Regions from separate parts of the Homo sapiens genome. Here region 2 is linked to region 1. A link means that fine-mapping ties the variant in region 1 to the expression of a gene that starts in the linked region. Tissue or cell type: unexposed skin. Region 1 holds a variant in brackets; the other region holds the start of a gene. All regions are shown on one strand. Distances are from middle to middle.

The links. PIP is the estimated chance that this variant, and not a neighbour inherited with it, causes the effect.
Region 2: LINC02175 starts here. The variant in region 1 is the best candidate, but not a certain one, in a credible set for the expression of LINC02175 in unexposed skin (GTEx, PIP 0.82).

The regions. Positions count from the first base shown.
Region 1 is chr16:24,957,204-24,962,577 of GRCh38, reverse strand. It overlaps ARHGAP17 (Rho GTPase activating protein 17), which reads left to right. Exons shown (of 20, transcript NM_001006634.3): 8 at 2,599-2,667; 9 at 2,826-2,907. Among named protein-coding and RNA genes, the nearest start is that of ARHGAP17, 55 kb to the left of the region's middle. The variant A/G (reference allele first, on the strand shown) is at 3,166.
Region 2 is chr16:25,064,695-25,070,068 of GRCh38, reverse strand. LINC02175 (long intergenic non-protein coding RNA 2175) reads right to left here and starts at 3,182. Exons shown (of 2, transcript NR_135197.1): 1 at 2,423-3,182; 2 at 1,114-2,290. It also overlaps the pseudogene SCML2P2. RefSeq lists a silencer at 2,890-3,279.

The DNA of each region.
Region 1 (5,374 bases):
ACCAGTCCAGGTCCATTTTTAATTAAACTTAAATCAGTTTGGGGTTTCTGGGACCACATGTCAGTAAATTTAAACTTTAAACCCTCCTGAAAGCAGGCCTATGTTTTGTGAAATCTCTTGGCCAATGTTTCTCAGACCTAAAGCCCATTCCAAAACAGACATACTTCCCCATGATTTCCATGTGATGCTAAGTGCATTTGTTCTAATCTGTTGTTTCGTTGAGAGTACAGTTCTTCAGGAATCTTATCTTTATGCATGATATATGTGTACTTGTTTCTCCTTACTAGTCCCCAAGGCTTCAGACACCTTGGTCACCAAGACTGGCACAAATCTGCCCCAGGTCATCTCCAGCTTCCATTGATGCTTAGCATTCCGACTTTTTCTTTCTTTCTGCTTCTTTTTCTTCTTTCTCTCTTTGTGTGTGTGTGTGTATGGTGGGGTTGAGGGGAATCAAGGAATTTACTTTATTGCTTTCCCAGTTATTATAAAAGGATGTTCATTACTTCTAACTAGCATTTCCAAGTTTTTGTCATAAATGGGAGGCCCTTCACATTAATTTGTGTACCTTGATGCCAAAAACAGAAGTCATTACATTAAAAAAAAAACAAACTCTCTCTACATATATATTTTCCGGCATATAAGTTTTCATATATATATATATATATAAAATTCCTATGTATATTTATATTTGAAGATTGGAAATACGTACCTAATTGCCTAATCTGTCACTTAAAATTTCTTTTTGGCCAGGTGCAGTGGCTCACATCTGTAATCCTAGCACTTTGTGAGGCTGAGATGGGAGGATCACTTGAGGTCAGGAGTTCAAAACCAGGCTGACCAACATGATGAAACTCCATCTCTACTAAAAAACAGAAAAATATTAGCTGAGTATGGTGGTATGCACCTGTAGTCCCAGCTACTCAGGAGGCTGAGGCAGGAGAATCGCTTGAACCCCGGAGATGGAGGTTGCGGTGGGCCAAGATTGCGCCACCAGACTCCAGCCTGGGCTACAGAGCAAGCAAGACTCCATCTCAAAAAAAAAAAAAAAAAAAAAAAAAATTTTTTTTTTTTTTTACTTAGAGACTAGATCTTGCTCTGTTGTCCAGGCTGTTCTCAAATTCCTGGCTCCAAGCAATCCTCCCACCTCAGCCTCCCAAAGTGCTGGGATTGTAGGTGTGAGCCACCACACTCAGCCTGTCACTGTTCACAAAATTATTTAATTTTTATATATGTAATTCATTTACATTAGGTCAGATATGAAAAAGTGTAAAACAGTGTACCGTGAAGTCTTTCTTCTACCATTATCCTCCTCCTGCCTAATTTCCATTGCTCCCAATAGGTAATAACTGTACTAATTTCTTGTTTTTTTGTCAAGACATATTTTTATACATATGTGACAATAACAATATGACATTGCTGAGTGTGGTGGCTCACGCCTGTAATCCTAGCACTTTGGGAGGCTGGGGTGGGTGGATCACTTGAGGCCAGGAGTTTGAGACCAGCCTGGCCAACGTGGCAAAACCTTGTCTCTACCAAAAATACAAAAAGTGTGGTGGCACACGCCTGTAATCCCAGCTACTAGGGTGGCTGAGACAGGAGAATTCCTTGAACCCGGGAGGTGGAGGTTTCAGTGAGCCAAGATTGTGCCACTGCACTTCAGCTTGGGTGACAGAGTGAGACTCTATCTCAAAAAAATAAATAAAAACAAAATAAAAATATGACATACCCTTCCACCCACCCCCTGCCTTTTTTTTTTTCTTTGGAGACGGAGTCTTGCACTGTTGCCAGGCTGGAGTGCAGTGGCACAATCTTGGCTCACTGCAAGCTCTGCCTCCCGGGTTCACACCATTCTCCTGCCTCAGCCTCCCAAGTAGCTGGGACTACAGGTGCCCGCCACCATACCTGGCTAATTTTTTGTATTTTTAGTAGCGACAGGGTTTCACTGTGTTAGTCAGGATGGTCTCAATCTCCTGACGTTGTGATCCGCCCACCTTGGCCTGCCAAAGTGAGCCACCACACCCAGCCTTTTTTTAGACAGAGTCTCACTCTATCGGCCAGGCTGGAGTGCAGTGGCACACGATCTCAGCTCACTGCAACCACCACCTCCCAGGCTCAAGCAATTCTCCTGCCTCAGCCTCCCGAGTAGCTAGGATTACAGCTGCCCGCCCCCACGCCTGGCTAATTTTTGTATTTTTAGTAGAGACGGGGTTTCACCATGTTGGCCAGGCTGGTCTCAAACTCCTGACCTCAGGTAATCTGCCCATCTCAGCCTCCCAAAGTGCTGGGATTACAGGCATGAGCCATCGTGCCCGGCCATTCCACCCCTTTTTTAACCCAGATGTTAATACACCATAAGTAATGCTCTGTACTTTGCTTCTTAAACAGATGTGTTAAAATATATCTTGGAGATCTTTCTTTGTCAGTCATGTAAGAAGCCTCCTTATTCTTTCTGTATGGTTGTACCAGGCAGTTGATGGACATTTAATCTGTGGTGCTTTCCATCACTTTTTCATCTAAGAGCTCACAGAGATTGTTCTCAGATGCCATTTTGTTTCACTTCTTTTTTCTTCAATAACCTCTTATCTTCCATTTACCCAGGATCAACTTGCAGCAGACATGTACAACTTTATGGCCAAAGAAGGGGAGTATGGCAAATTCTTTGTTACGGTAAGCACCTTCCCTTGAGAAAATGTTAAAGCATTGTTAAAATGGAGTCATTTTAGCTTTTTTGCAAAAGATTTCATTTTTAGTTTTGCTCAGCCATTGTGTGTGTGTCCATCCGATGCTAACGTTACTTTTGTTTTTGAATGTGGGTCTGTTCTCAGTTATTAGAAGCCCAAGCAGATTACCATAGAAAAGCATTAGCAGTCTTAGAAAAGACCCTCCCCGAAATGCGAGCCCATCAAGGTAATGTAACCCGCGTGCGGCTGATGCTTCCTTCTTGCCTCTGCCACCTCTGCCTGGGTTCTTCTTCACCCTGACTCCTCTGCATGCACGTCCTTGGGATAAAGCTTCTCTGCCTAGGAGGGTACTGTTTCCCAGCATAATTTCATCTTCCTTGCTGCATTCTCTAATTTCTTCCAAACCCAAATTAACACACTAATGGAACATTTGTAGTTCTTCTGAAACCTTCAGTTGAAGAGAAAGCTGGCCTCTTTGGGGAGT[A/G]CCTGTGTGTTTTCCCATCTTCTGTAGGCTTGAAAAAGTCCAGCATTGAATGATCCTTTTCCACATCAGTTATTTGTTCCACAGGACTTAATTCTGGCCATGTGACTCCAAGAGCATCCATTCTAGGGAAAATATTTTGGACTTTCCAAAAGAGAAGCCAGTACTTGATGCCACATCATGCACGTCACACTTAATAATAAGTGTGATTGAATCCTAAGACCGTGGTCGCTTCGTTCAGACTCCTCCTTTGTCTTTATACTAAGCTTTTGTTCTTATCACCATTAATATTTCTCCTATCATATTCAAGCACACTGCAGATTGTATCTGCAAGTTAGGTGCAGACTGAACTTTCCCCTTATGTTGAATTTTAAGTTGGGCATCTAAAGCTGCTTTTTTTTTTTTCTCTCCCTAAAGCTTTCGATGCTGTGTCTCTCTGATTTACCATTAGAGCATTTACCAGCAGAGATGAGCACAGCTGTTGAGTCAGAAATTGCTCGGCCGTCTTTGGATCTATTTCACCTGTGGTGTAGACCTGACATTTGGAGCTTATGCTCCTCTGCAGAACCACTGGTCTTGAGCTGAAAGGGGATCAGGCCAGGTGCTGAGTGGGATGACTTTGTGATTTTGAGACCGAGCATGTGTCTGTGTGTGTTGTGGGGGGGATGCTTTGTGGATGTGCATACATACCAGCACCTTCAAGAATGCGACTTCTTCTCCCCCTAAGTTCCAGGAGATCCTCACAGGTTCTGGCTTTGTGCCTGAAAATTTTGGGATTATGGAATTATAAAATTTTATGTCTTGCCTGACCATATAGTCAGATCTTCAGCATTCTCAGGGGCAGTGTTTCTGATTTTCTCAGCCATTGCCCTTGCCTTCCCAAATAATCAAGATTATTAGTTCATGGAGGATGGTGTTGAGTCACAGTGCAAAGGAACGAGGTCTCTGGAAAATGTTCCCACCTTTCTAGGGACAGACTCTTGCTGGGCAAGTTCAGAGGACCAAGAAAATATATTTATGAGATATCTGCTGTGGGCTGGGCCCCGCATAGGACAAAATAGTAGACAAATCATCATTTTAGCCTTTGAATGGCTGAGAGTCTGATTTGAAAGAGTTGATTAACAAGAGGAAAAACGAGAGATTGGATTTTTTTTCGCATTTTGTTTGTTTGTTTGTTTTAAAGAGACAAAGTCTCACTCTGTTGCCCAGGCTAGACTAGAACTCTCATTCTGTTTTTTTCCCAAGGGTATTTTCCCTAGAGAAATACATCAGGAAGCCATGGAGAGCGGGGATGGGACAGGAAAGAGGTTAGGATGGAACAGCCCGTGGAGGAAGTGCGATTTGTCCTTCTTGCTGAGGTCACCCTTTACCGAGTTGCAATTCAACCCCTCCCACCTCTGCCTGTCCTTGTACCTGCCTTTCATCTTAGTTCTGTCTTTTCTTTCCTTGCTGTCTTCTCTGTTTTCAGAAAGACTTATCTTGTCCTTACTATATAAAAAAAGTGTGACCTGCCCCCACAGCCCCCTCACCTCCGTGGACTCTGGTGTCACATTCATGGTCAGTTGGTGGTAATCTGGTACCTTCCTGACCTGAACACAGCGTCCTGTTTAATCTGGTTCTCCTTCATTTTTTCTGGTGGGTACTTCAGATGACCCCTTCCTGCCTGCCACCTGCATTTTCTTACCACCTTCCTACTCCTGAATCCTTTGCACTCTTGTGTCTACCCCCAATCCCTCTGCTGTTTAGGAAAAAAGAGCAAAACATACTGCAGTTTTCAAAGGACCAGCAACCACCCGTCAGATCCTGGCATTTGACCCGGCATGGGCCGTCCCTTCCTTATTCATTTTTGTCTCCTCACGCCACTCGACTGTCTTCTTTCATTGTAAGGACTCTGCATTGCTCCATTTCTTTTTAAAAATTTTTCTTCAAGAAGGATTATATATTGCTCATTTCTGTCTCCACCCCAGAAGTCAGCCTTTTCTGAGGTCCAGTCCTTGCACCTCTGTTCTCTCCCACCCTCACTTCCTCGCCCCCTTTTCCCTAGAAATCCCCTTACTTGGACAGCTTTGCCTCTTACCTGCATTTTAATCCTTGCAGCCTCCTAAGCATCGGTTCCCTTTGATGAACAGCACTCACCTTAAACTCAAAAAGCAAACCAGTCCTCTTCCCACTCCAACTGTCCCTTTTCTCCCTTCTTGTCTCCCTTATATCA
Region 2 (5,374 bases), 110 kb before region 1:
AGACCAGATAATGGTTCTTCCTATCTATTGCTTCAAGTTTCATTCTCATTTTAAGTGATTTAAGGTTGGCTTCTGTGATTCTTCCTTAAAGTAATGTTAAAGGTGTGACTTCAGTTTCATTTAGAGTTCATAAGATGACTCTAAATGACTAGCCAAGATGACACATTCATCTGGAACCCCAGGGAAGACGGAAGTAAAACCCTCCTTTTTCTCCTAAATATCCCAAAAGGTTGGGTGCCCTAGGTCCAAGGGATCTGCAAGCCTCCTAAAGAAATTTCCATTGTCCCTCCCGGCTGGTGTGAATTGTAATCTGGTATCTATATCCCAGGAACATTTAACAAACATTAAAGAAACACCATAAAGCTAACAAGCTGTTACCAACTGTGAAGTCATTAGCTAGAGGAATCTTGGATTGTCCAAAAGACTGAAAAAGCCCAGGCAGATCCCATCTCTTCCTCATAACTGTTCCACTGGAAATTGTCATTTTTCACAGGAGACTTTTCGTTTTTTTGGTGACAAGGTCTGGCTCTCTGTCACCGAAGCTGGAGTGCAATGGCACCATCTTGGCTCACTGCACCCTTGACTTCCCATACTCAGGTGATTGTCCCACCTCAGCCTCCTGAGTAGTTGGGACCACAAGAATGCACCACCACGCCTAGCTAACTTTTTCTTTTATTTATGTATTTTCAGATAGGGTCTTACGCTGTTGCCCATGCTGGAGTGCAGTGGTGTGATTATGGCTCACTGCAGCCTCCAACTCCTGGGCTGAATCTATCCTCCTACCTCATCCTCCCGAAGTGCTGGGATTACAGGCATCAGCCACCATACCTTGCCTTAATTTTTAAAAATTCTTTGTAGAGATGGAGGTCTCTCTACATTGCCCAGGCTGGTCTTGAATTCCTGGGCTCATGCAATCGTCCTGACTCAGCCTCCCAAAGTGCTGGGATTACGTGCACGAGCCATCATGCCCTGCCTTAATTTTTAAAAATTAACTGTAGAGACAGGGTCTCCCTCTCTTGCCCAGGTTGACCTTGAACTCCTGGGCTCAAACTATCCTCCTGCCTCAGCCTCCCAAAGTGCTGGGATTGCAGGCATAAGCCACTACACCCAGCCTAACATGAGGCATTCTTTTTATTTTTTTTTGAGACAGGGTCTCACTCTGTCATACAGGCAGGTGGGTGGTGACAGCGACCATGACCACGGGTCAACCTGGGCCTCAGACACTGGGGAAAGGTGGCCATGTCCAGTTTTCTCAGGAAATTAGGAGGCAGGTCATCCGAGGAGAGAGGGTGTGTCTGGGGTAGGGTGGAGTAGCTTTCAGAAAAGTGTAAGTCTGGCAAAAGCACTCAGGAAAATGGGACAGAAAATGAGCCAAGCGCTGGATGGCAGCGTTCATTCAGCCCAGCTGAGCTTGGAGGCCATGAAATGCTGGCAGCCCCACACTGCAAGACTGCAGGGTCTTTCTGGGCCACGCCCCGAATCCCAGGTATGGAAGTGAAGGACCCAAAAAGAGGAACGAATCAGGCTGTTATTCTGCAGAACAGGTGAAAGAAAAAAGCCAAGTAGACAGAGCCTTGGAAGTCAAAGAGTCACCCACATGCCTGACCCAGTCAGAAGAAAGGGGACCAAGCCAGGGCGGGAGGGACTGTGTGGGAAAGAGGAGGCTGAAAGGAGGAGAGACCGCGGGCAGAGGTGGACAAGGGACCAAGGTGAAGACCTTTGAGGTGCTTCTTGAACCACAGTGGTGAATGTCTTTCTGGACAAGAGTGCCAGTGCCCACCGCCATCACAGGACACAGCCCCATCCGCACTCCCGGGACAGCAACATCTCATTGTCCCAAACTCTGCCAATTTCATCAGTGAAAAGTGGAGCCTGGAAGCTTTGCATTTCTTCAATGACTTCGAATTTTTTAAAATGGTCTCACAGATTTCCTGGTCATCGGTATTTCATCTGAAAAGTCTCTTTCTGTGATATCTGCTCATTAGAGCGGAGTTCTTAAAATTATTAGAGAGTGTTATACATTCAGTATATTCACCTCTGTGGTGGTTGCTCTCAGTTTTGTCCAGTTAGTCATTCATCATAAATTTAACTTTGATATCATAATAAAACAGACAAAAGTGTAGTTATTATGTGCTTAAATCTACAGGTGCTTTTTTAAAAAGTTCTTTTTAGAGACAGGGTTTTGCCCTGTCGCCCAGGCTGGAGTGCAGTGGCGCGATCTTGGCTCACTTCAGCCTCCACCTCTTGGGTTCAAGCCATCCTCCTGCCTCAAACTCCAGAGCAGCTGGGACTACAGGTGAAAATATCACAATTATATGTTAGAGAGAGAGAGAATGAATCATTGTAAAACAATGAAAAGGTGAAGAATGTCTGTTACCTGTGTAAGTAACATCTACATCAACCCTCACCTGAAGTTCCTCACCTCTTCCCTTGCTCTTTTCTTCAGCCCAAACACGGTGTTCAACGTTCTTCCCAGTCACCGCCCAAGGCCGCTGTCTTAGCCCTGCCGTCATCACCTCTCTGAGCCTACTGCAGTAGCTTCCTATCTGGGTTCCCTTTCCATTCCTCCCGGGTCCCGACTCCATCGGCTGCCAGTTGACTTCCCACAGCACCAACTTTTCTCAGCCTTCTGCCTATGAGAGCTCCCCAAATTCTACCACGGGAGCCCTCAAACCATGATCCTCCCCAAAACGTGAACAGCAGCTTCTCGAACCATGGACAGATGGCACAGATGACAACCGAAGCCAATCACCACTGCCTGTCCCTGGAAGTGGACGCTCCGGGTCATGGGTGGCCATGTATCTCGGTCCTGCTATCCTGGGTGGTTGGAGGAATTCTAGCAGTGAGAGTTGAAAACCGCTCGGCGCGCGGCAAGAGAGGATGAAGCCCGAGTCTGACCTGGGAAGGGAGCTGCTCCCCGGGCAGTGGACCCCAGGGCTGGCGGGGAGGCGGCCTCGGTCAGCCCAGTTGGTCTCGGGCCGCTGGGCCTCAGCCCCCAAGCCTGGTGCCCGCTGGCCCCGGAGGAGCTGTCCCGCCCCCTCCGGCACTCGCCTTCCGGGGCTTGGTCGGCTAGCTGCTTCACGCGCGCGGGCTGGGGGCCCCAACGGCGGACGAGCGCTGCTCCCACCGCTCCAGCGCCCAGACTGTAGCGGCTCCGCCTCCGCGGTCCGTTGGCCCCGCCCCCACGTCTCTTCCGGGGCCCCGCCCACCCCCTTCGGGCCCGCCCAGCACGGCCTCCCCTTGTGGCCTGGAGCCCCAGGCCGAGGGCGCAGAGACCAGAAGGCCGAGCTGGGCGGCGACCCCCGTTCTTGCCCGGTCACTTCCTGCGGCGCCGCCTGCCCGCTGGCAAACTGTGGCTGGGAGACCCTTTAAATAGAACGTATTAGCCAAAACTAGAAGAGCAAAATATGTACCATGTTTCAATTTAATGGGATTGCCAGGTGTTTTAAGGGTCCGCCGCAACGGTCCCTCGAGTCCCGGGGTTTTTGTCCCCATCAGATCATTCGTGGTGTGGATCTTCCGGGAGGTTATGGGAAAGGGAGACCAGCAGCCGGCTCCGTGGGCGGCCATACTGCTCCCCCAGGAAGGCCAGGCAAATCTTCAGTGCTGGGATCCCCCTAGTACGTTCATTTTGTCTAGGGTCCAGGTGGGGCCATCGAGCCCCTTGCCCACAGGATTGGTCCTTTGGCATGCAGATAAGCAACACCGCCAAGAAAAGCCCATGGGGTCTTTAGGCTGTTAGGAGACCACCAGGGAGCCATTCCTAAATCTTCCCAGGTGATGGTTCCAAAAACCCTGGTGTTTGGGGAAAGGAAAAAGGGTTATCCACAGGACTATGCTGGAACACTTTCCCAAACAGTGTCTGCCTGGCTGTCCCAAGCAGCCGGTGATGGAGCGATGGTCATGAGGCTAGACCAAAGACCACAGAGTCTAGCCTCACTCTAGTGGAACTCAGGCACCCACCCGTTAGGATGTCGTGTTGCTGCTGCCCCCAGGTGGGAGCCTGGGAAACCACCTGGCCGACACGGGCCACACCTGATGGGACCTCACAAGGAGATACAGTCCATTAACGTTCGTCAGGGTGGGAAGAAGTGGCAACACCTACTGAGATAACAAAACTCATTAGCTGAAGGGCAAGCTGGCCAGCAACTGGCAGTGATGTTCTCAATAGTCCTGGCCGCCTTATAAAACCAGCTACTTAGGCCGGGCACGGTGGCTCACTCCTGTAATCCCAGCACTTTGGGAGGCTGAAGTGGGTGGATCACAAGGTCTAGGAGTTCAAGACCAACCTGGCCAGTATGGTGAAACCCCGTCTCTACTAAAAATACAAAAATTAGCCTGGTGTGGTGGTGGGCGCCTGTAGTCCTAGCTACTTGGGAGGCTGGGGCAGGAGAATCGCTTGAACCCGGGAGGAGGAGGTTGCAGTGAGCTGAGATCGCGCCACTGCACTCCAGCCCGGGAGACAGAGCAAGACTCCGTCTCTAAATAAATAAATAAACAAACAAACAAAACCAGCTACTTAGTAAAGGAGCAGCTAGTTAAAGCTAACCAGGGGTCCTCAATCAAGGATGGGCCACACTGTTTGTGATGCCAATCGTTTTATTCACACTCTTTACTCCATTGATGAAAGAGGGATTCCTTCCCCCCACGCTCCTGCCCCCGCCCCTGTCCCCACCCCCAGAGATACGGGGATGGCCGAACACACAACACTTGATGCAGGACGGATGCAATCAACAGCAGCTGACTGGTCACAGATACTCCAGTCCAGGGGAGAAGGACCCTGCACACTATGCAGGGCAATGTGGAGGCTACACTCCGGAACACGGTAACAAGGAGGGGCTGCTGGAGGCAGGCTTTGTAGTAACAAAAGTGCAGAGTGAGCCCTGGTTCCCACGGGAGGGTGTGACTGGCTTGTCTGAATAATTCGTCCTTGAGCTGGCAGGGAACTGAAGCCTACTGTTTGGGGATAAGCAGGCTCTGTGTCTGATCCCTAAAATAAGGAGAGTGTTTAGCCAGAGAATTTCATCTGCGGAAGCAGACAGGGAGCGAGGCTTGGAGTTCAGCCATTTGAGGCCCTCTTGATTTAAATGGATGTAAAGACAGAATTTGATATGAATCCTAATTTCAGGCCTTACACCACAATACACTATTAAAAAGTAAGTTTTCCGAGAACTAGTCATTGAGTTCAGTGTCACAAGATTTTAAATAAACATTCTAAACTCAACTGTGGCATAGTGGTTCACGCCTGTAATCCCAGCACTTTGGGAGGCCAAGATGGGAGGATTGCTTGAGCCAGAGGTTCGAGACCAGCCTGGGTAAGATGGTAAGGCCCTATCTCTACAAAAAAAATATATAAATTAGCCAGGTATGGTGA